Homo sapiens: one gene and its partners. The protein of the gene in region 2 interacts with the protein of the main gene of each other region in a pairwise test. Each region holds a gene or a part of one and is shown on either strand. Other genes may lie near its edges.

The links.
Region 1: the proteins of PEF1 (region 2) and SOHLH1 interact in binary tests that used the Homo sapiens proteins (3 or more experiments, as listed by UniProt).
Region 3: the proteins of PEF1 (region 2) and WWOX interact in binary tests that used the Homo sapiens proteins (3 or more experiments, as listed by UniProt).

Annotation. Positions count from the first base shown.
Region 1 is NC_000009.12:135,696,292-135,704,376, forward strand, and holds the start of SOHLH1 (spermatogenesis- and oogenesis-specific basic helix-loop-helix-containing protein 1), read right to left. Parts: upstream 3,191-8,085; 5' UTR 3,177-3,190; coding exon 3,112-3,176; intron 2,836-3,111; coding exon 2,704-2,835; intron 2,186-2,703; coding exon 2,038-2,185; intron 1,337-2,037; coding exon 1,215-1,336; intron 515-1,214; coding exon 321-514; intron 1-320. UniProt on the Homo sapiens protein: Transcription regulator of both male and female germline differentiation. Suppresses genes involved in spermatogonial stem cells maintenance, and induces genes important for spermatogonial differentiation.
Region 2 is NC_000001.11:31,634,568-31,642,385, forward strand, and holds part of PEF1 (peflin), read right to left. Parts: exon of another isoform or gene 7,042-7,818; coding exon of another isoform or gene 7,033-7,041; intron 956-7,032; coding exon 655-955; intron 377-654; coding exon of another isoform or gene 279-376; exon of another isoform or gene 99-278; intron 1-98. UniProt on the Homo sapiens protein: Calcium-binding protein that acts as an adapter that bridges unrelated proteins or stabilizes weak protein-protein complexes in response to calcium.
Region 3 is NC_000016.10:78,109,026-78,116,843, reverse strand, and holds part of WWOX (WW domain-containing oxidoreductase), read right to left. Parts: intron 7,067-7,818; coding exon 7,009-7,066; intron 1,869-7,008; coding exon 1,690-1,868; intron 1-1,689. UniProt on the Homo sapiens protein: Putative oxidoreductase. Acts as a tumor suppressor and plays a role in apoptosis. Required for normal bone development. May function synergistically with p53/TP53 to control genotoxic stress-induced cell death.

The sequences.
Region 1 (8,085 bases), on a different chromosome or scaffold from region 2:
TCCCTGGAGCACATGGAAGTCCCAGGAGGAGACAGGATAGAAGGAACAGCTCCCATGGTGGCCTTTGCCCAGGACTCTCCCTTCCTCGAGCCACACTTCCTCCCTCCCGAGAGCACACGTCCTCCTTTTCACAAAAGCAGGCACAGCCCGGGGGCCTTGAATCAAGCTCATCCCTCAACACGTGGGTTTCTCACCAACACAAGGGCCTGGGAAAACTTCGAACCCCGTTTGCAAACAGCCCCCATTGTTCTTAGGGCTAAAGCACAGCCTGGCGCCGCTCCCCAGGCCAAAGGCACCCCACATGCACACCCAGGACTCACCTGAGAAAGGGGGCAGCCCACCCCGCACCTGGCACAGCCCCAACAGTGCCTCACACTTGTCCGTGCCCAGGGACGTGCAGCTCGCGGGGTCCCACTGCCTGGAGGACGCAAGGATGTGCGGCACGGGCTCTGGGCTGGCCGACGCTGGATCCAGGGACCAAGGACTTTCCAGAAACGCCTTCACATCTGGGGTTCTAGAAGGAGCAACATGACAAGGATCCTGGGTCTATTCCCCAGCCCCCTGGAAGGCTGCCCCCACCCACCCCAAGAGCAGAGGGCTGGACCCATCCCCAGGACACCCCAGGCACCACCCAGCATCAAGCCAGCCTCTGCCCAGGGGCCCTGGGCCAGCCAAGCTCCACAGCTGTCTACCCAGTTTCCCTCTGCCCAACTCCTCCGGTTCTAGATTCTTCCACAGCTAATTAGCCACCAGTCCCATGCCCCAGCCTGCTTTGGGGTAAAATGGGTACATTTAAACACAAGATGCAGACAGTCCTTCAACCTGGGGAGCTGCCATTCTGAAAAGAACCAAATTATCTTGACTTCAGAAAACTGCATTCCTGAAGCTGCCCATGGGGAGGAGTATGACACCTCACTGACCACCTGTAAATTCCCCACACACAGGAGCAGAAGAGATCCTCCCGGGCACCTCCCACCTCCACACCAGCCCAGGCCCTCAATTCTGCTGACCGCGCTCCCCCCTTGCTGGAGCTCGCCCATGTTGGTCACCTCACACCTGGCCACCTGAGTTGGCAGGGCCCTGGGCAGGTCACCACCTGCGGAGGCCAAGCCGGGCCTCCAGGCCACACCCTCCCGAGGACATGCCAGGGGGCTTTGGGTCTGCTGCTCCCAGGGTCACCCAGCCCTGGAGAGCGGGCCCCAGGAGACACTAACCGAGTCCCGCTGGACGCTCCCGTCCCAGGGTCTGGCACACCTGCTTGAATCTGACTCGACAACGTCAACTGTAAAACATCCTCCTGCAACGAGTGCCACATTTCCTTGGAGGAAGCAAGAATCTGAAATTTAAGTAAACATGTAAAACAAAGACAGAGACAGTCAGCTGAGAAACCCAAGACACGGTGACAAGACTGCTACCCCAGGGCCTGGAGGGTCACTGTGAGCTCGGTCCCCGCTTGGAACTTGGGGGCGAGAGTACAGGTTGACAACGAGGCTGAGGTTCCACCCCCGAAAGGCCCCACCATTCCTGAATCAGGCTGTGCATACCCAAGGGCCTCACTGCAAATGCTGGGACCCCTGACCTCACAGATGACAACACAGTTTCATTCCCCACACAGGTCCTCAGCCCCAGCACTCACGGGGTCAGCCAGAGCCCCCAGAGCCTTGGAGAGGGGAGAGGAGCCTCTCTCTTGGAGACGTGCAGAGAAATGATCTAGGGGGTGCTCAGCCAGGGAGGATCAGGAGACCCCAACTCTCCCCCAAATTGGCACGGAGCATCTCGGCAACCCATCAATGAACAGGACTCAGGGGCACAGGAGGGCTGGAAAGGAAGGCTTGCTCCTTTCCAGGAACAGAATAACAACAGGTAAGGCTTGAACAAATCAGGAAGTGCCCTGCCGAAAACGTGGCCTGCTCTAGCCGTGGAGACCCAGAGGGCTGAAGGAGACGGGGATGACAGGGGACACACTGCCTGCAAGGTGGTGAGATGTCCCATCACCGTGATGCCGGAGGACTGACGGCGTCTACCCTTACAACTCACAGCGTGCTGCTCCTGACTGGGCCCCAGGGCGCTGGCAAGCCGCAGGAACTGCACAGACATCTCCAGGACCGAGGCCATGTCCTCCCGCCGGCCATCGAACTGGGGCAGCAGGGCCCGCAGACGCTCACAGCTCAACGACATCCGCTTCCTGGTTCCGGTCAAGAAACAAATACCTCTGGGCCCTCCTGCCCTCCCCGAGAAGGGACAGCAACTGCTAGAACCTGCCAGATAGACCCTGGGCGCTTGTCAGGCAGAGGGGGCTACAAGATGACTCAGAGCTGCCCCCGTGGTCTGAAGCCCCGAGATCCACATCAGAGCACAGCCTGGGCCTGACCCCTGGACCTCGGCGACAGGCTGTCCAGCCCAGGCCCAAACCATGGCTGCTTTGCGGTGTGGAAAAGACAGCGAGGGTCAGAGGCAGTCAGAAGCACAGAGGGTCACAGGTGCACAGCCTCAAGAGGCCAAGGCTTCAGGATAAAGAGGGGCTGCAGGATGTTCCCCAACAGGGCTTTTCTGGTTTACTTGGAGATGTGCAGTCTGTCCTTCTCCTGGGCACAGGCCACGAGCCCCTCCCAGCTGCCTGACACCTGGTGGCAGCCCCGAACATAATCTCACCCGCTCCACCCCTTTACAGCGCCCTCACCCCTGGGAGGCACCACCACTCACCTGCGCTCCCTCTCGCTGATCACGTTCCGCCGAAGGCAGGAGCTGGGACCCTCGGCCACCGTAGGGGCCTTGGGCGGGCCCGAGCCCCGGGCCGAGTCCTCGCAGCAGGAGAGGGCACCAGACAGGGAGCCGCTGCCGAGAAAGCCAAGAGCACCGGGCCCTGAGAACCCCAGAAAAGGCCACCAGGAGTCCCAGATGCCAGAATGGGCGTCTTTGGGGTGCGGGTGGAAGCCAAGACTGGGTCACGTAGGGACACGGCCCGGCCCTCTCTGCACCCCTTCCCCTCTCCCAGGGTCCAGGGCTCCGCCCCAGGAGGCCCAGGATGGGTGGAGCCCAGCAACTTGCGGAAGAACCCCTGGGTACAGGCCTTGGGCCCCCAACCCCTTGGCCGCCAGCCCAATTCCTCACTTGCATCCCCTGACGGTAGGGATTCTGGAGACCTCCGGGTAGGGCTCGGAGCACCGGGACGCCATGAACTCGCAGCTGCGGAGCGACCCCACGCGCACGGCCCCTTCCGCAGGCAGCCCCGCCCCCTCACGTGTGCTCTGCCCACCTGCCACGTGCTTTCCACCTAGCCCACCCCACCCCCACTTGCAATCCGCCCCCATAGCGCATGCGCTCTAGCCCTCCCCACGCAGCCAGCCCGGGGCCCACGTGACCCGCGTTCCTGCAAAGAAGGTGCTGGAAAGGGACTCGGGGGGTCCACCCACTCTATGCCCCCGCAGGACGCCAGGGGAAGGGGCCCCAGCCCAGGTGGCCCTGCCTCTACCCTTACCTTCCCGGGGGTCGCCTCGGTTCCCACTTATGCGGTGGTCTCGGTGCCCTTGGGCACTTTGGAGATGCGGGCTCTGCCCTTAGGAGCCCAGCCCCTGGTGGGAGTGGGCGGGCTGGGCTGAGTTGTTTAGCCCAGGCCTGGGGGACCCAGGGACACAGGGAGGGGGAAGGGTACCCGCCTGCTCCCCAGTCGCCCACGCCTCCATTTTCCCCCAAATCTAGTACGCTTGCAGACGCTGCGCCTCAGGGTAGGGTCACCATCCACACTTCTGGGTCGCCCAGAACCAGGGGCATCTTGTCCCCACCCCAGGCCACCATCGTCCGTGCTCTTCCTCCCGCTGAGCTCTGCCGGGCACCCTCGGAACCGTCTGTCCCTTCACCTGGCCCTGCCCAAGCACCATCCCCGCTTTATGCCCTGGGGCCCCAGCTCGACCCCTCACCTCACACTCTCAACAGGTTTCTGCGGGATCGCGGGGGTCCTGCCCATCCAAATTCAGAAAGCTCCGGCGCCAGGTGTTTGCTCACCTCCCCGCTGAACTCCAGGAGCCGCCCTGCGCTGGGCTTGAGTCCCCCAGTACATACTTTTGGGGGGATGACGGAGGGAAGGGGGAGGTGGAGACCCTTCCTCTTTCACGGAGGTTGCGGGGGGCCCTCAGGGAAGCAGAGGGGACGAGGGTGGGGGGTGAGGCTGGACTGTTGGGAGGACATCCCTGGCCTGGCTCGTGCTGAGGTCGTAGCGGGAGGAGGTGGGGTGGGTGGCAGGGGCTCTCCTCCCGAGAGGGGAGGCAAGAAGGAGCCCGGGCAGGTGCCACCACACGGGGACGTCTGTCCGGGGTGCCCCAGTCTCCTGTGGAGAAGGCGCGGCTCTGGGCCTCGGGCTGGCATCCTGGACTTTGGGCCAAAGATGGGTGAAGGGTGTTTGGAGCAGAGGGAGGTTATGTAATATAAGGTGGTGTCTCCATCCCTGCTCCGCCCAGCCTTGGCTGCAGGTCAGACATGGAGGAGGACGGGGTTGGAGAGGAGGGCAAAAGCTCTCGGGGACCTGGGCCCCTCTCCCGGCCCTGCCCCTGGCCAGGGAGGGATGGACGGGCTGGCGATCTGGGGCTCCTCAGTGGCAGAGTGGGGCCAAGTTTTTGTTTCCCTAAAGCCCTCGGAATGTCATCAAACCTGTGACTCTCCTGCCGTTGACAACACGTGTAATTACTGCTAATTAATCACAGATGCAGATGGTGCGGCCTCTCAGTTTTTTCTGAGTTCCCCAGGCAGGAGGGCGTTGGCAGAAAGGCCACCATCTTGCCCCGGCGGCACCCGCCCAGGGGTGGTGGGACCCCGGCAGCAGCACCGGCCAATCTAGGGACCTGAGGAAAAACCCCCAAGATGCCCACGAGCTGTGTGGCGGGGGCACAGGCTGAACCTCTGCTGGGGACTTAGCATCCTAGACTTCCCCGAGTGTTCCCCACCCACCCCTCAAAAGCATCTGTGTTCAGCCTGCTGCCTCCTGGAGAAACAGGGAAGGACCCTCTGGAGAGACACTGGGGAGGCCAGGGACCACAAAGTACATGGCATGCGCCCTCCAAATGGACCTGGCCCTCCCCCTGGCCCTCGTGGGCACAGTCCTGGCTTAGTGAGGGGCCTGGTCCACCCTGCAAACCAACAAAGCTCTGGGGACAGAAATCGCAGTTCTCCAGAGCTCTGTGTGAGGCTGAGCCAGGGTGACGCATGTGTAACAGTGTGAGCACGTGCACGGGAAAGGGGGCCCGCAGGGGGACCCTCTGCTTCCTAGTCTTTGGCCTGCAGCATCTTAAGTTGGGGCCCCTCCCCACCCGTCTAAAGGTGCTGTGTGTGCCCGTCTGGGTGAGAGCACAGGGCGGGGTGCAGTCATCCCCCTCCCCCAGGCCAAGCCCAGGATGTGGCGCCCACCCACAGATGCCGCAGCCTGCGGGGGGTGTGGGGGCGGGGGGGCGGGGAGTCGTCTTGAATCTGGCTTGTGTTCAATGACCAGTGTTGACCACGGCAGAGCAGCACAAGCGGGAGGTGCTGACGGTCCCTGGGCGCAGCGGCTGGACGCTGGCGGTCCGAGCAGCGCATGTGCCCTGCTGCCCGCCAAGGACCCAGAGCCCCCTGAGCCCCCGCCCACCACGGAGCCCTCCCAGGGGTGTAGGGCCCGGTGGCGGCGCGCTTGGGCTTTTCTAGCCATTGACGAACCCCGTCCTGTTTTTCGGAGTTTTGAGGGCTCAGAGGGCCGCGGCGGGAGCGGATCGCCCTCCCTACCCCGCACCCCCGTCCCAGCCTGGGCCAGAGCCGCCGCGGGTCCCGGCGCGGCCGGCAGGGGGCGCGCGCGGACAGACGCCTGCACCCGACCCTGGAACTGGCGTCTTTTCCTCGCTAATCTGCGAGGAAAAAAAAAATGTTTTTCAGGGCAACGCGAGGGAAGAAGGTGGCGGCTCCCACTCGCTTCTCCCTCGGGTCGGGTCCGAGCTGCCAGGCCGCATGCCACTCCCTGACGGGGCGCGGACCCCGGGGGGCGTCTGCCGGGAGGCGCGCGGCGGGGGCTACACCAACCGGACCTTCGAGTTTGACGACGGCCAATGCGCCCCCAGGTACAGTCTGCTGCGCCCTCCCCACGCGGGGAGGCCCCGGTCTAACCTAAGACCCCCAAGTTCCCCCTCAGGCTCCCGCACCCTCCAGGACCCGCCATTCCCAGGGCCATCCAACTTCCCCAGGACCCGCGAGTGCCCTCCCAACCACCTTGGGGAACAGGGGCGCCCCTCAGGGTGGGCCGCACTAATCAGCAGGTGCCGAGGCAGCAGCGTCCGTCCCCATCTGTCCTCGACCTGGTAAGAAGCTGGGGGGAGCGGCCGTGGCTACATGGGGGTCCTGAGCATCTCCCAGGTGTGGGGAGTGGCAGGGAGGCTGGGGGCGGTGCAGGGCCTTCCATCTCCCCCAGCCCCTGCCCCACCCCAGCTTGGGGAGGAAGGTTCCATCCTTCTTGTGTGGCATGGCAGTGCTCGGCCAGGGTGGGGTGCCCGGCGAGGTTACCCCACACAGTAGGGGGTTTCCAGAGCAACCTTCCAAGGAAGAGTCCCCAGTGGGAAGTGGGCTAAGTGGCTGTCAGATGAGGGCGGGAGTCCTGGGTTCTGGTCACTCCTCGTTCCCCGCTGGCCTATCCCTGGGAGGAGAGGGCCAGTTGAGAATGGCATTCAGGTGACCTGGAGCTAGCTGTTCCCTGTGCAGTGTCCTGGGATGCCATGCGTCTGCCGTCCACCCAGTGACCAGTGCAGAGGCACGGACCGGCAGCTGAGTGGGACAGTCCTGAGCGGAGGTTGCCCCAGGGTCCAGGTTCCCCATCCTCTCCCCCATCCCTCAGCTCTTGAAAACAGGCAAGTCTGCCCCTCACCCTGTCCCCAGAGCCAGACTCCAGGGAACCCTGGGCAGAGCCGGTCACTGCCTTGGGCGAACCCCTCCCCACCAGGACAGAGCCCTTTCTTCTGGATCCTGCCCAGTCTCAGGCTGTCCTGAGGCCAGAGAAGGGGGTGGAAGAGCATACCTGAGAGCGGGAGGCCTGGTGCGGCTGCCTGTTTGTTCTATGGGACTCAGTTTCCCCGAGTGTAAAATGAGGAGGTAGGGCGGATGGTCTTTAAGGGCTGCCTCTGGTGAGGGACCAGGCTGGAGAGGAGGTTCCCAGAATCAAGAGGCAGGCACAGCACCCACCTGGCACCCGGGGGAGTCCGGGGTACAGCGTGTGTGAGGAGCAGGTGCTCTGAGGGTGGACAGTGACTTGGTGATGTCCTTGGGAAGTGGGCACAGCCTGGACGTGCTCTGAGGGACTATCCGGGGGATGCCTGTCAGGCACAGAGAAAATGACCCCAAGGGGGTCCTGGATTGCCCTCATCTTTGTGGGCTGGCCGGCCCCTACCATCTCCCTCCCCAGCCTAGCGTTGCCCTCCCTGGCCATTCTGCTGGAGTTTATCACCTACCCTGCTGGGCCTGACCTGCTCCAGACGAGCCGGCAGGACAGTGTCCTCAGGGTCCAGCCTTTAGCTCCAGGCCTCATCCTCCGGGTCCTTCCAGACACCTGTCTCTCCCAATTGGCCCTGCCCACCGGCCCGGGACAGCTCCTCCTCCCCGCTGGACTGAGCTGGCCTCCGTTGCAACAGAGATTCCCTGTCACACTGCAGGCAGAGCAGCCGCCGGCAGTGGAGGGATGTCAGGCGTCAGGCTTGGGGAGGGAGCAGGACCTGGGCTTGGCTGGGCTCGGGAGCGGGGAGCTGAGCTCCAGGTGAGGCCAAGGCTTGCGGCCCAGGCAGGTGGCTTCAGCTGCAGAAAGAAGAACCTTCGTGCTGCCTGGTGGTGGGGGGAGCTCTGTGGGGCGGGTTTCCCCACCAGCTCTCACATGGGGAGGAGGGTGCCAGGCAACAGCGTGGTCAGAACCCAGGCCCTGGAGTCCATAGGTCTTGGTGCCAGGCCTTGAGCAGGCCTCTGTCTTTCCTGGGTGCTGGAGGATGCCAGCCTTGGTGCTATGGTTCAGAGGGGCCAGGAGGTGCTTGGACACCCCACCCCACTCCAGTGCCCCAGCTCAAACCCCCAGCTCCACGCTAGTGGTGTCCC
Region 2 (7,818 bases):
CGTCTCCTGGCTAATAATCTCTAGCCAGGAGACACAGTCTGCACACCCACAGACATTGTACTAATATGGTACAATGGTTTAAAAGGCCAGTTCAATAATCTATTATTAGATTACTTGCTAATCTCCCCTTCCCTATAAGAGCATTGTACATCCTCTCCCACTGCCTGGTGGCTTGCAGAGGGGCATCCTTTCCCATCCTACTGATGTCAGTCTTGATCAGGGGGTGCTCTGGCCAAAAGAATGCAAGTGGGCAAGACATACAGTACTTCAGAGAAGCTTTAAGAGGCATTGTGCATTCTTGCTAGCTCTCCTGCTCCTTCTCTCTGCCACAAAGATAACATATCCCAAACAGGAGCTGCTCCTTCAGCATGTATCCCTGAATGAAAAAGACACAGGGAACAGAAACTCAACAGCCAGCTAACAGCTGCTGACATGTAAGCAAAAGAAAGTAAGCATGAGCAAGCAATACAAATAAATGCTTGCAACAAAACTAGCTGACAAACTTATCATTTTGAGGATACACACTGAAGCTGGAAGCAAGATGCTAAGGTGCCAGAGACCAGGCTGCCTGCACACCCACAGGAAGGACAAAGGCTGGCCATGGATAACTCAGAACCACGTCAGAGGTACCCGGAGTCCAAGATTACTACTTACCCTGTCCATAAAGCCCAGGCTGCTGGGCACCGTAGGAACTTGGAGGTGGCTGACCATAGGGGCCCCCGGGAGCTGCACCGCCATATGGTCCTCCTGGAGTTCCAGAGGGGAACATCCCAGGATTGGGGTGTCCATAGGGCCCTCCACCAGCTGGTGGTCCATAAGGCCCTCCAGGGGCAGGACCCCCATAACCACCACCAGGGGGTAGCCCACTACCATACTGCCCTCCACTATTGGGGGGTCCAGGGTAGTAGCTACCCGGAGGGGCTCCTGGTGCTTGTCCTGCAGCTCCTGGGCAGCCCTGCAGGAAGAGCAAGATATCAGTCAGAATGATGAGGCCAGAAACTAGGCAGAGTATGGCACTTTACAACCATAAAGCACTTCCACCACCATCCTTTCAACTGATCCTATAGGTAGGGTTGGAATTATGATCTCACTGCTCAGATGGGCAAACTGAGGCTTCCAGAGGAGCAACGAGTTACCCAAAGTCACCCCGCCAATGACCTGCAGAGTCAGGGTTGAAATCCTCCTTTCCTAACTCTCCTTTCCTGCACATCAAGGGGCTCCACAAGGGCTAGGATCCTGTCTGGTTTGTCACTTTATCCCCAGCTCCCAGTGTAGAATGGATACTTGGTAAATATTTCCTGTATGAATGAATAGGCAAATGAATCAAACAGAATTCCAAATGCCCATCCTGTGGTACTCCCATCTCTATCTGCAGAACTCATGGGGCAAACGCAGTCTCTAACACACACCCCTGACCCTCATCAGTCACAAATGACATAGCTATAGCATGGATTCATCCACAGCATGTCTTCCTTACCCTGATGTAAAAACATTTCCCTATCCTCACTCACAACTCTGTGAGGCAGGCAGGGGAGACCCTATTCCTAAGGCAATACGATACAATGCTTTCAAAGGCCAGTTCAACAGCTAGGCGTGGTGGCTCACAGCTGTGTAATCACAGCACTTTGGAAGTCTGAGGCGGGCAGACTGCTTGAGCCCAGGAGTTAGAGACCAGCCTGGGCAACACAGAAAAACAACATCTCTACTAAAAACCTGGGCAACATAGAAAAACTACATCTCTATTTAAAAAATACAAAAATTAGCCAGGTGTGGTGGCGCACACCTATAGTCCCAATGACTCAGGAGGCTAAGGTGGGAGGATCACCTGAGCCTGGGGAGGTCGAGGCTACAGTGAGCCATGATCACACAACTGTACTCCAGCCTGGGTGACAGAGTAAGATCCGATCTCAAAACAAACAAACAAACAAAAAACAACCAGTTCAAGAGTTCAAGTTCAGGTTCTGCCATTTACTAACTGGACTGACTTATCCTCTCTAAGCCTCAACATCTTCTGCTATAAAATGGGAATAATAATAGCTACCTCTCAGGTTAGTTTGTGAATGAAATGAGGCCAGCTATGTGAAGCCCTTTGACATTGGGCCTGACACAAATTAAGCACTCAATAAACACTATTAATAATAGCCTCCTACAGAGGACAAGACTCAAGTCCAGGAAAGTCACACACAGGCTGTGTGGAGGGGCTGGGACCAGAACCTGGGTCTCTTGGCTCTATGTCCAGGGCATTTGTGCATTAGAGCATACATGGGGGCATTCCCTCTCTCATCCATCTTCCCACACCAGTAGCCCTCGGAGTGTTCCGCTCCATCTCCCTAAATGGCTAGCACAGGACCCAGCAGAGCACAGCCCCAACACATCTGCAGACAAGCTGAGCTCAAGGGCACAGACAGCAGCTAGGCCCAGCTCCGAGAACGGCACCATCTAGATACGTTCTAGATCAACCTGTAAGTGCACCAGTGGCCAAGCCACTGAGAGCCTGGGCTTTCTCTTTTTATTGTGTTTGATAGCTTGAAATAATTACTCTTAAGGCTAAGGCCAAATTCATGAGGTTTTTTTGTGGGGAGGGCAGGAAGCAGGCCCTGTCACCCACTCAGCAATCCTTGGGAGCTTTTCTACCCTAGAAGCTGTCATAGCTACTAGCAAGACTCCTTCACAGACAAGAATGGCTCACACAGATCTCAATTTAAAACTCTGCTCCCATCAGCTAAGTTCATGACTGTGGGCCCGTGGCTTCATCTCTCTGAGCCTGCTTCCTCACAAATAGAACAATTCCTTCCTCACTGGACTGTTCTGCAGATTATAAAAAATAAATGCAGCAAAATTCTGTCAGTTTAATTTTTAGCTAAAGAATCCTTTGATAACCAACCTGGGCAACATAGTAAGATCCCACCTCTACAAAAAATTTTTAAAAATCAGCCGGGCATGGTGGTACACATGTAGTCCCTGCTACTCGGGAGGCTAAAGCGGAAGGATCACTTGAGCCTAAGTTGGAGGCTGCAGTGAGCTGTGATTGTGCCACAACACTCCAGCCTGAGTAACAGAGGGAGACCCTGTCTCCAAAAAAAAAAAAAAAAAAAAAAAAGAGAGAGAGAAAGAAAGAATCCTTTGATAAAATAAATAAAACAAATACAAGAAAGTTGCTCTGGCTGAAGTAAGGTGGGAGCTCCAGAGCCCCTACAATATGGAACCCCCTCCCTTGCTACATTCTGAGGGGGCTCTGAAAACCCCTCACAGTGACTGAAAAGACAGTCTGAAAACCACTCACATAAGAAAAATAGTTTTTACAACAGTGCCTGGCATAAAGCAAATGATCAGTAAGTCATAGCTGCTATTGCTATATTAATTACTGTTATCAGCAAAGTCCTGGGCCAGGTGAACTGTGCGGGGTGGGGTATAAAGGAGAGTGAAGCAATCTGAAGGCACTCACAGTTAACAAGACTTAACATGTAGACACTGTGTAACGTCTAACAAAACAGCATAAGGAAAACAGGTGTTTGAAATGGAGACATAAGTCATGTGCCATAGGACTGCAAAGGAAGGAGGGTAAAATCAGGGAGTGTTTCCATGAGAGTGGCATTTGAGCTAGGACTTAGAGAACGAACAGGATTCCCAAGGGGTTGGAGAGGTGTGACAAGAGAAATACCCAGAAGACAAGTCACTTAACCTAACCCCCATTTTACAGATGGGGGAGGGAGGGAGGGACTTGCCCAAGTAATGCTGTGAGCTGGAGGAAGAGACAAGGCTGGACCACTCCCTTGCACCCAATGACTCCCCCTGCCTCCTGCTACAACACTCCTTCATTAAGCAATAGGGCTCAGGATTCCAGCATAGGATGGAAAGGGAGTGGGAACTCTGCAGAATCTGGGCACACCCAAAGAACAGGCCAGACACGAAGCCAGAAGTAGCTGCCCCACTATAAGCCCTGTGAGCAAAGCTATAAACCGCACCTGGCACCTAGGAAAACCCACCTAGGAAACCACCTATAAACCACCTAGGAAACATCCCCAGGCCAACAAAGCAGGTGCTGCCAGGCAGGTCTCCTGCCCTTCTGGCTATTGTAGTCTGGCAGCAATTAAACCCTTTCCTTTCTGTCCTGCATTTGAAGACCTCCTCTGTAGTTTACAAAGTACTTTCACAAACACAAACACTACAGGCAGAATCTTGCCAATGGCCTCCTAACAGAAAAAAGGAAGATGTTAGTTGCCCTCTTTTACAGATGAAGAAACTAAGCCACGGAGCTGTTAAAGGACTTCATTCAGCACGCATTTTCAGAGTGACAATATTGTACTAGGCTCTGTAGTAGATCTGAGGACACAAGTAAATGAAGTCCTGCCCTTAAGGGGCCCACAGATAATTGTGATACAATCTGATCAGTGCCATCAGAAAAATCTACTTATGTGCTATCAAGGAAGCTTAGATGGAGGAATTTGTGCTGTTTGCAGAATGAATAAATGAACAATGTATGAAGTGGGTCAAGGAAAGCTTCCTGGAGGAAGTGGCAGTGATATTGGAAATGGTCCTTGAAGGATGCATAGACATTTTCCAAAAGGCAGGCAGGGAAGGACACTCCAGACAGAAGAGAGAAGAAAGACAAACGCACAGACTTAAGAGTGAGCATAGTGCATTCAGGGAATGAGTTAAACCGCAGAGCCAAGAATGCAGTGTGAACCCAGAAAGGCAGGCCCTCTATACACTCGTTGACCAAGCACCTCTCCCCCTGCATTTCAGTTAGCCGTGAGGTATCAGTGTCTAAGAGTAGTTTCTGTCTAGCATCTCCCCCACCCAACAGTAAGCTCCCCAGGGGCAGACACTGCGCCTCACTCATCATGGCACCCCAGGGCCCAGCACAGTGCCTGGCACCTGCAAGCCTCCACAAATATTTGGACAAATGAACACCACTCTAAAGAGTTTTGTTGGGGCTTTATGCCGGAGAAAACAGAGCACTATAGAAGGGTTTCCAATAGGAGAGGAACGTGATGAGAACCTTGTTTAGAGAAGTAACCAGCGGCGGTGTGGAGGATGAGCCAGTGAGGGAGGCAGTAGCCCAGGTGCTGGGCAGGCAGGGCATGAACCAGACAGCACACTTGGGGATGAAGAGAACGGAATGGATTCTGAAGCTATTTCAGAGATAGACCAGACATGACTTGGTGACTAATTAGATTAGGAAAGAGATGGAGGAGGAGTGAGGAAAGTGTTCAGAATGACTCGGGTTTCTAGCTTTTGCACAAGATGAAGGAGGTGGAGCCAACTGAGACAGAATGCAGGCTGCACAGGAAGTTTGGGGAAGAAGATGAGGTGGTCCCCACCTCACAGAGGGTCACCCAGTGTCACTGAGTTGTTAGCAAAGGTCTGAACCAGAAATGAAAAACAGCATCCCTGACTCCACGTTCTTTTACACTACTCCATGCTCCCAGCCCTTTTTAGAGTTTTTCCAAGAGTTATTTCATACTGATAAACAGGATTGTGAAGGCAGGTGGAGGGGAAGGACAGGAAGAGTTCAGTAACTGCAGCTTCTGAAGCAACACAGAAAAACTATCTCTAGGGCTCTGGCTGATTGCAAATAAGCTACATCTGATGCCCTGGGGGGACTGGGGGCAACAAACATTTACTGAGGCTCTGCTAGGTGCTTCCAGTTCAACCAGCTCTCACTAATCCTCAGTCCTGTGAGGTAAACAGTGTCATCTCCATTTTGCAGATGAGAAAATTAAGGGGCAGAGAGTTTAATAACATGCCTGAGATCATGCAGCTAGAATGGGCAAGTTGGGATTCAAGTCAGGGTCTGCATGACTCTACACTACCCCCTTCTGTTTGTTCACTCAATAAATGAGTGAGTGCCTAGCATGTGTCTGTGTGAGGGACTGTGCTAAATGTCTTTGTCAAATATAATGAATTTCTACTGTGGACAGAGGTAGAGGGGAAGGCTGGATTGGGTGATCTCTCAGAGCCTTCAAGCCCAGAAATCAGGGACTCTTAGAAAAATCTCATTCTTTTTCGTCCCAGCACCTAGAGTCACTTTGAGAGCCAAGCCACATTTTGGAAGACACCCCAAAGACTCTTCAGTTCAACCTCTCAGTTAATAATGGAATCTCTGCAGAACCACCTGGAATCTCTACCTGCACTTGCGCAAGCAGTAGGGAGCTTACCTCCTCCCAAATAACCACCTCAGAAAGTCCGGTATTTTTTTTTTCTTTCCAGTTCTGAGGACTCAAGTCTTCTAACCTCAAGACCCCTGTGAAGCTTAAAGGTATCAACGGCTGTTCCAAGCTGAGCCCTGATGACGAATGGAGGAGGGAGCATTGCAAAGACAAGTTTGTACCCCAGAGCTACCCTTCAAGTGCACAGGAGGAGGTGGGAAGCCCAAACTAAGGGGTTAAACAATCACAGGAAGACAAGAGGAACAGTTCAAGCATTCACCAGCAGAGCCACTTGAAATAGGAGAGAAGCACGCAACCAATAAACAATGAGCCAAGAACCATCCCCAGACTTCAATTACCTCTGTGCTCACACTTTCAAATCTTTCCAGCTTCATCACTCCTGAGCTACAGACCCACATATCCAGCAGCCTACTGGACCTTCCCTCCAAACCCATGCCTCCCTGTGTTCTCATCTCAGTGAATGGAGCTCCGTTCTGCTTAATCATCCAAACCTAAGGCCAAGTTTTCTCAAATCTACCTCCCAAGTGCTTCTCAAATCTCCTCTACCAGGTCACAGTTCTCTTTAGCCTAGATTACCTCAATAGCGTCAAAACCGGTATCCCTGCCTCCTGTCTCTCCTGCTTCAATCCATTCTCACAGCACCCCACAGTAAGCACTCCAAAGCACAAATGGGACAAAACACTTCACTGGCTCCCTCACTACTCTTAGGATGAAGTCACACTCCCCAAAAAGGCATACAAGGCCCTTTGGGATCTGGCCCTTGCTTACCTTTCTAGTCTTATTTCCTACCCCTTTCCCCCACATCACTACAACTACACTGAACTTCTTAAAGTTCCTCCAAAATACTAGGCTGTCTTACCTGCTTCATGGGCTTTGTGCAGCTATTTCCTCTGCTGGAATAGCATTCCTTTCTTCACTCAGCTAATTTCTACCAGTGATTCAGTTGTTGGCTTAAATATCACCTCTTTTAAAAATGCACCCCTAGACTGAGTTAGGTATCTCACTCTCCCGTGCTGTACCTTACACTTACTCCCATTGAATACTTATCACATTGCCTCTTCAATCTGCATAACTGCATTACTCCTCCACTTGGAGTATTCTACATGCCCAACACCATACCTAGCACTTTACGTGGATTTTCTCATTTAATCTTTAGAGTAATTCTGAGGTAGATACTATTATGACCCCATTCTAAAGAAGGGAAAACTAGTCCAGGCGTGGTGGCTCACGCCTGTAATCCCAACACTGTGGGAGGCTGAGGCAGGTGGATCACCTGAGGTTAGGAGTTTGAGACCAGCCTGGCCAACATGGCGAAACCCCGTCTCTACTAAAAATACAAAAAATTAGCCAGGTGTGGTGGCGTGCGCCTGTAATTCCAGCTACTTGGGAGGCTGAGGCAGGAGAACTGCTTGAACCCGGGAGACGGAGGTTGCAGTGAGCCAAGATTGTGCCATTGCACTCCAGCCTGGGCGACAGAGCAAGACTCTGTCTTAAAAATAAACAAATAAATAAAAAATTTTTTTCAAAAAAGGGAAAACTGAGTCTCAGACTTTTGCAACAAACTTCTGCAAGGGAGTGACAAAGCAGGGATTTGAAATCAACTCTCTCTGGCCTCAAAAACTAAGCTCTTAAGCACTGAAATCCA
Region 3 (7,818 bases), on a different chromosome or scaffold from region 2:
ACAGAAAAAGAGTCTAGCTAGAAGATTAAGAGAATAAGATCTTTAAAGTTTCTGGCTAACTTGTTAAATTGTTAAAAAGACATTTTTAAGCCCTTAAGTCCTTTTTTCTTAATTATTCCACAATTGTATGGGTCCATGCATTCACTGTAACAGTACTTAATATGATCAACAAAATGTATTCTTCTTAGATTGGGGATCCAGCCATTGTTTTAAATATTACGCCATCAGTTTTGACTTCAATGACAATTATATAAAATTTACTCCAATGCAGAAGTTCAGACAAGTGGATTGAACATATTTGGAGCCCAGGATGAGGTATGAGAGTTGATTTGAAATAAAATCCTTTCAATTCTTAAAAAAAAATTTCCATTTGCTTCTTTACCTTCATAGGCAAGTACAGTAAAAAAATTCTCCACTCGGATGGCAACCTGGTAGATTTCACACCTTGTACAACACAATAATTGACCCTTGAACAATGTATTTTTACCTCCTGTGCCTCCCTAATCATGCTAGAAAATATTTCTGCAGCTTCAAGGAATTGTTCAAAATTAAGAAAGAAGTGCAGATGGTTAATGGGTACAAAAAAGATAGAAAGAAAGAATAAGACCTACTATTTGATAGCACAACAAGTTGATTATAGTTAATAATAACTTAATTGCACATTGTAAAATATCTAAAAGGGTATAACTGAATTGTTTATCACTCAAAGGATAAATTCTTGAGGGGATGGATACCCCATTCTCCATGATGTGACTATTTCACATTGCATCCCTGTATCAAAACATCTCATGAACCCCATAAATATAGACACCTTTATATACCCACAAAAAATAAAAATAAAAACAAAATTAGGAAAGAGAAACAAATGAGTAGAGGAGGGCATCAAGGGGGCCGTGTGAGGGCTGCGGGGGACCAAAAGGACAGAGAGAACTTGACAGAAGACAGCCAAATGCAACGTTTCATATGTCGACAAATCTGAAGATGCATATCTAAACTCAAAGCAGGTGGTTCTCACTGATTCAGATACTTATGTAAATAGATCAAAGCAAAATCAGAATAAAATCCTATGAAGAGTTATGGTTTGCTCCCGCCTTGCTCCTGTCTCCTTAATGGCCCATCATATTGAAGCAAGGATACCCTCTTGAGCCATCTACCCATGATAGTCCCTGTGGGTAAACATTGGCAATTAAGAGGTGAAGACAGGAACTCATTCTCCAATTTTATAGAGAAATAAGATCCTGTGCCCAAAAGAAAATGATATGCTCAGTGACCAGTCGAAACCTGTAGTATCCTTTGTTCCAAAGACATAATACCTTGTTGTTCCCCGTATTCTATTACCAATCAATTTTGGTTTGAATAACCCAGGTAATTGGAATATGCCCATACACCATGCAGACCAGGTCAAAAACTCTTAGACGGAGCCTGTTGTCTCTCATCCCTGAATACCAAAATAGCCACAGTCTTTTGCTGAGTGTTCAGCTTTCAGAGACTTCAAGGTCAGCCCCTACACAGGCTTCCATGACAACATTAGGATTTAAAAAGAGGTAGTGATGTTAATGAAACGATATCTGAAAAGGATAAAAGTCATGTTTAAATCAGAGAACCACTAAACAAAATTCCATTATAGCTAGATCTAAGTGGATCTCATTATAGCAGTCCCAAAGATAAATAACTAAGTGAAGAGCCTACCTATTCCTGAATTAGCTCCAGTGACCACAACCACTTTGCCAGTGAAATCCCGGCCCTGGAGAATTTCCATGGCAGTGGTGCTGCCGTCGTATCTTTGCCGGGTGGTTGGCTTGGTCGGATTATCATCCACAGTAAACGCCAGTCTTGGGTCCAAGTAGGTGGTTCTTTTATTTATATGGCTGCCCAAAAGAGAAAGCAGTGAACCCACAGCAATGAACACAGGCATTTATAAATATAAGACAATCTTATACTTTAGGAAAACCCCATTTTTCATAGACCAAAATGCTTATTCCTTAAACCTGAAAGAACTGGGGCCCACTGAATCTATCTTCTGGCCTCCAGAAGGATCACATTTGTGCCAAAAAAAGATAGTCATCGAATCCTTTCCTTCAGAACTGCCTATAACATACGCTGTAACATACAATAACTATTGCCATGTATCCTTAGATCTCAAAAAAGGCTTCTTGAGAAGGTTTTGGGCTTTTATGTAATTCATGTAAATGTAGCTATAAGATCTGTCAGCCACTCTTTTCAGTAGATTTCAATTAAATCTCTTAGCCCTGTGCAAGGGCCTAAAGACGTAGAGAAGTAGAAAACTCAAAATGATAAAGTCTTAGTTGTAAATAAGAAACCTGCCAACTACCAAAATTCTAACGATTTTCATTTTAAGACTCTGCACTCATACCTCCTACGAGCACTCATTTTGATTTGGAATTGATCTAAATCTTGTAGAAATGGTATTAAAATATACTGGAGGCTGGGCACAGTGGCTCACGCCTGTAATCTCGGCAATTTGGGAGGCCAAGGCAAGAGGACCACTTGAGCCCAGGAGTTCAAGACCAGCCTGGGCAACATAGTTAGACCTCATCTCTACAAACACTAAACAAAATTTCAAGTGTGATAGCACACGCCTGTAGTCGCAGCTACTTGGGAGGCTGAGGTAGGAGGATGATCACGTGAGCCTAAGAGATCAAAGCTGCAGTGAGCCATGATTGTGCCACTGCACTCTAGCCTGGGTGACAGACCAAGACCCTGGGTAACCATTAAAAAAAAAAAAAAAAAAAAGGCACATATGGATGAAAAGAGTACTCCTTATAATAGAATTTACTTTTTATATCTTAAATGTATTCTTGGGATATGAGATAAAGACCTCAGAATATCTTAAAAACTATTAAGAAGCCTCTAAATATAGATGAAATTTCATATTTTAAAAGTATGTGTGTGTAAAATTAGTTTAAAATATATACTCATCTCCCTATAAGTACCAAGACTCAAGAGTAATAATCCAACCTTTATTCTAATTATTACCATCCTCATCCTCATTCTATTTATAACAACCTTAATTTGTGACCCCAATATTATACACACACAACAGAGCAGTTCTATGCTAGACTGGCTCAAACTGGCTTACAAGAGCCAAACGTGACTATCTCTTCCCAATTCCTCACTTCACCTTGGCAGCATGAAATCAGCTATGGCCAAAGTATTTATACTGTGGAAACAAACAGTGGCTTTTTTCCCCCTGAAGACCTGGTGCTAAACATTTACCAGCACCCCACTGCAACAGGCTCAGAAAAGTGAGAACTAGCCAGGGGAGCCAATTTCCAGGTTCCCCCCAAAGCCCTTGCTTACTCCTCTAGATTAGACCAGGAGCTGGCCAAATCTGGCCCACTGCCTGTTTCTGTAAATAAAGTTTTATTGGAACACAACAACGCCCATCACTTGTATATTGTGTATAGCTGCTTTAGCACTACAAAGGCAGAGTTGAATCATTGCAACAGAAACCATATGCCCTGCAAATCCTAAAACATATTATCTAGCCCTTTACAGGCAAAGGAGACAGCCCCTGCTCTAGACGGGAGGCTCTCAAGCTAGGGAACATCAGGATCCCCTGGATGACTATTAGAGCGCAGATTGCAAGCCCCACCCCAGTGCTGATTCAGTAGGTCTGGGGTGGGGGCCTGGGAATGTACATTTTTATTGAATTCCCAGGTGATATTAATGCTGCTGGTCCAGGAACCATGCCTGAGAACTGCTGCTCTTGGTTGATTAATACCCATTTCAGGGAGTAACTTTCCAAGCGTGAATGCAAAGGCAAAGACTGCACAGGAGAAAATTGATTTGACTACATAAAAAATTTAAGAAATTCAGTCAGGTGTGGTCGCTCATGCCTGTAATATGAATGCTTTGGGAAGTCAAGGCAGGAGGATCGCTGAAGGCCAGAAGTTCAAGACCAGCCTGGGCAACATACTGAGCCTCAGTCTCTACAAAAAAAAAGTCTTTAAAAATTAGCTGGGCATGGCAGCATGAGCCTGTAGTCCCAGCTCCTCAGAAGGCTGAGGCAGGAGGATCACTTGAGTCCAGGAGGTTGAGGCTGCAGCGAGCTGTGACTGTGTCACTGCACCTCAGCCCTGGATAAGAAGAGCAAGACCCAGTATAAAAAAAAAAAAAGAAAGAAAACTTGGAAAAAAAAAAAAAACATTTTCAACATTTTCAACATACAACCAATGCGTTGATACCCTTAATTAGTTGAGGAAAAAAAACTTTCACAAGTTAGGCAAAAAGCCTTTTAACAAATAATAGGCACTCCCACCTATCCAACTGCTAGACAGCCCCGTCTTCCTGGGGCTGCCTATGGTGGCCTGGGAGACTTCTCTCAAGCAAGCTTTGGCCTATTTGCTCTCAATATCAGTTTTGCACCAAAAGTTCACCAGGTTTGCTCAAAAAACACACATGTCATTTGAACTTGTTACTGTAACTACATTACCAGCAAGCTACTATTACACAAACTGATAACATGGGAGGTGAAAAATAGTGTCAGTGGTATCTATGAAAATGTGGTCGAATGCTTTGGAGAGCCTCAAAGACAAGCAGCTAAAAAAAAAGTTTTGGTTCAATCAACTACAGTGAAAATGCTAGAAAAATACCATAAAACTCCCAAATGATGTAGCAATCAGATTCTTTGAAAATACTGTGTTTGCTCAACCTTAAAGTTGTAGGGTCCAGCCCTACTGGGCTTAGCGGGTGTTCTCCCCGTGTGCAGAGACGAGGGATTGTAATAAATAAAGACACAAGACAAAGAGATAAGGAGAAAACAGCTGGGCCCAGGGTGGGGGCCACTACCACCAAGATGTGGAGACCGGTAGTGGCCCCGAACGGCTGGGCACGCTGATATTTATCGCATACAAGACAAGGGGGCAGGGTAAGGAGGGTGAATCTTCTAAGTGATTGACAAGGTGAAGCAAGTCACGTGATTACAGGATAGAGGGCCCTTCCCTTTTAGGTAGCCGAAGCAGAGAGAGAAGGCAGCATACGTCAGCATTTTCTTTTCTGCCCTTAAAAGAAAGATCAAAGACTTTAAAACTTTCACCATTTCTTCTACCACTATCTACTACGTACTTCAAAGAGGAACCAGGAGTACGGGAGGAGCATGAAAGCGGACAACGTACGTGACCATTGAAACACAGCACCACAGGGAGGGGTTTAGGCCTCCGGATGACTGTGGGCAGGCCTGGATAATACCCAGCCTTCCACAAGAAGCTGGTGGAGCAGAGTGTTCCCTGACTCCTCCAAGGAAAGGAGACTCCCTTTCGCGGTCTGCTAAGTAACGGGTGTCTTCCCAGACACTGGCGTTACCGCTTGACCAAGGAGCCCTCAAGCAGCCCTTATGCGGGTGTGACAGAAGGCTCACCTCTTGCCTTCTAGGTCACTTCTCACAATGTCCCTTTAGCACCTGAGCCTATACATGCCAGTTATTCCTAGGTTATGTTAGTAATGCCACAAAGAGTAATATTAAAAGCTAATGATTAATAGTGTTTATAGTAATGATTGATAATTGTCCATGATCATCTCCATATCTAACCTGTATTATGACTATTCTTATTCTAACTACTTTCTTTATTATACTGAAACAGTTTGTGCCTTCAGTCTCTTGCCTCGGCACCTAGGTACTCTTTCGCCCACATAAAATGAAAGTAGAAATTGTAGATGTTATGTTACAGGCATGCTTAGGGGAAGGAAGACCACACTGGATCCATGCAAGTGGACTCACACTCAGAGGAGGGCTGGCCCGACCCCTAAATGTTGGTGTACTTGAATCAAATACTGAAACGTTTATGTTACATTCATAACTTTAAAAAAAAAAAAAATTCCTGCTCAAATCAACTTCTATTAACCAACCAATCCTAATCCTGTCAAAGACTATTCAAGCTTCTAATTTAAATGTTGACAGTTGTGAAACATTAATTCTCCTCTTAACTACGGTGGTCAAGAGTACAGTCCCTGGAGCAGGTGCTGGGCTCAAAGCCTGGCTGTGCTACTTCTTTGCTGTGGGATCCTTAACAAGTCACTTACCCCCTCAAGTCTGTGTCACTGGCAGTAAGCTAGGGATAATAACAATACTACCTCTCAGGGCACTGTGGGGATCCAATGACCTAATGCTACAGATACAAGATGATTAGAATCAGGCCTGGCTCATGCTATATGTTGGACAGGTGGTTACTATTGCTGCGTGATACCGGAATTTATCCTAAAGACAGAATCAGAGAGGTGAAAAAGTCTTACAGATAAGGATGCTCAATACATTATTTATAATTATAGGTTCTCTATAACAGGAATTTAGCATTAATGTCCAATAGGCAATTTGATAAATTATAGTATATCTGTACAAAATAATAACTCTAGAGCTGCTAAATAGCATCTTTTTGAAAAATAGATATGGATACAAGAAAATGCTCATAATATATTACATGGAAAAAGCAGGTTACTAAACAGTCCACACAGTGCATTCCCTCTTTTTTTTTTTTTTTTTTTTTTGAGAAGGAGTCTCATTCTGTCACCCAGGCTGGAGTGCAGTGGCGCGATCTCAGCTCACTGCAACTTCCGCCTCCTGGGTTCAAGTGATTCTCCCGCCTTACCCTCCCGAGTAGCAGGGACCACAGGCACGTGCCACCACACCCAGCTCATTTTTATATTTTTAGTAGAGACGGAGTTTCACCATGTTGGCCAGAATGGTCTCGATCTCTTGACCTCAGGATCCACCCACTTCGACCTCCCAAAGTGCTGGGATTACAGGCATGAGCCACCATGCCTGGCCTCCCTACTTTTTTTTTTTAAGGATGCGTGTGCGGGGAAAATAGAAGAATAAATCTAGCGATGTTAAAAGTTCCAGCGATGTTAAAAGTAGTCACTTCTGCTAAGATTACAGATACACACTGTTATACTTTGTATTTTTCTACAGTTACTATGTATTACTTTTATAATTAAAAATTCCTATTAAAAAGCAAAACAGCTGAGAGTGGTTTCTTTGCAGACACTTACTCAACAAAAAACACTTGTCCGTTCTCATCAGTTTCTTGTTCCCATCCGTATGGCAAATCTGAAACACAAGAAAGACAGGTCTACAGGTGCCAGGGAGAAGTAAAGACCATCCCTGGGTCAGGAAGGGAAGGAGCCCTCCCAGCCCCGCCCCCAAGCCTGTCCCTCCCACCCAGCAGTTGTCACATCAACTGGCTTTCGTCACATGTTCCAACTGCGACAGCTGCAGAAGGCCCCTGATCCCACCCTGGGCTCCACATTTTTGCCTCTTGTTTTGAAGAAAACCTATTTTATTCCTGATCGCTCTATAAACCATACTGGTTGTGCCAATCCATGGGAATTCTCCCTTGAATGAGCTCAAAGAACATATGTATATGCAGGGCAGGCACCCAACGTCATTCATACGCTGACCTCATATGACATTAGAGGGCACGGCCATTTTTTTTCATGTGCACATGTTGATTCTTCAGCTGGATCCTAAACCTCTTAAGGGCAGGAACCTTCTCATATTTTTTTTTGAGATGGGGTCTCACTATGTTGCCTAGGCTCACCTCGAATTCCCAGGCACAAGTGATCCTCCCACCTCTGCCTCCCAAAGGGCTGGGATCACAAGCACAAGCCACCGTGCCTGTCCCTTTCTTATACTTCTATTCCGTGGATCATACATTATCTCAGAATCACCTAGAAGTCATGGTAATCTTTACGAAATTTCCAAATACTTATATATTTAATTCCATAGTATAGCCAAGAACAATTTTATAAACACTGCAACGATAGGAAAACATCATAAACTGTGAATCAAAGGCCTCAATT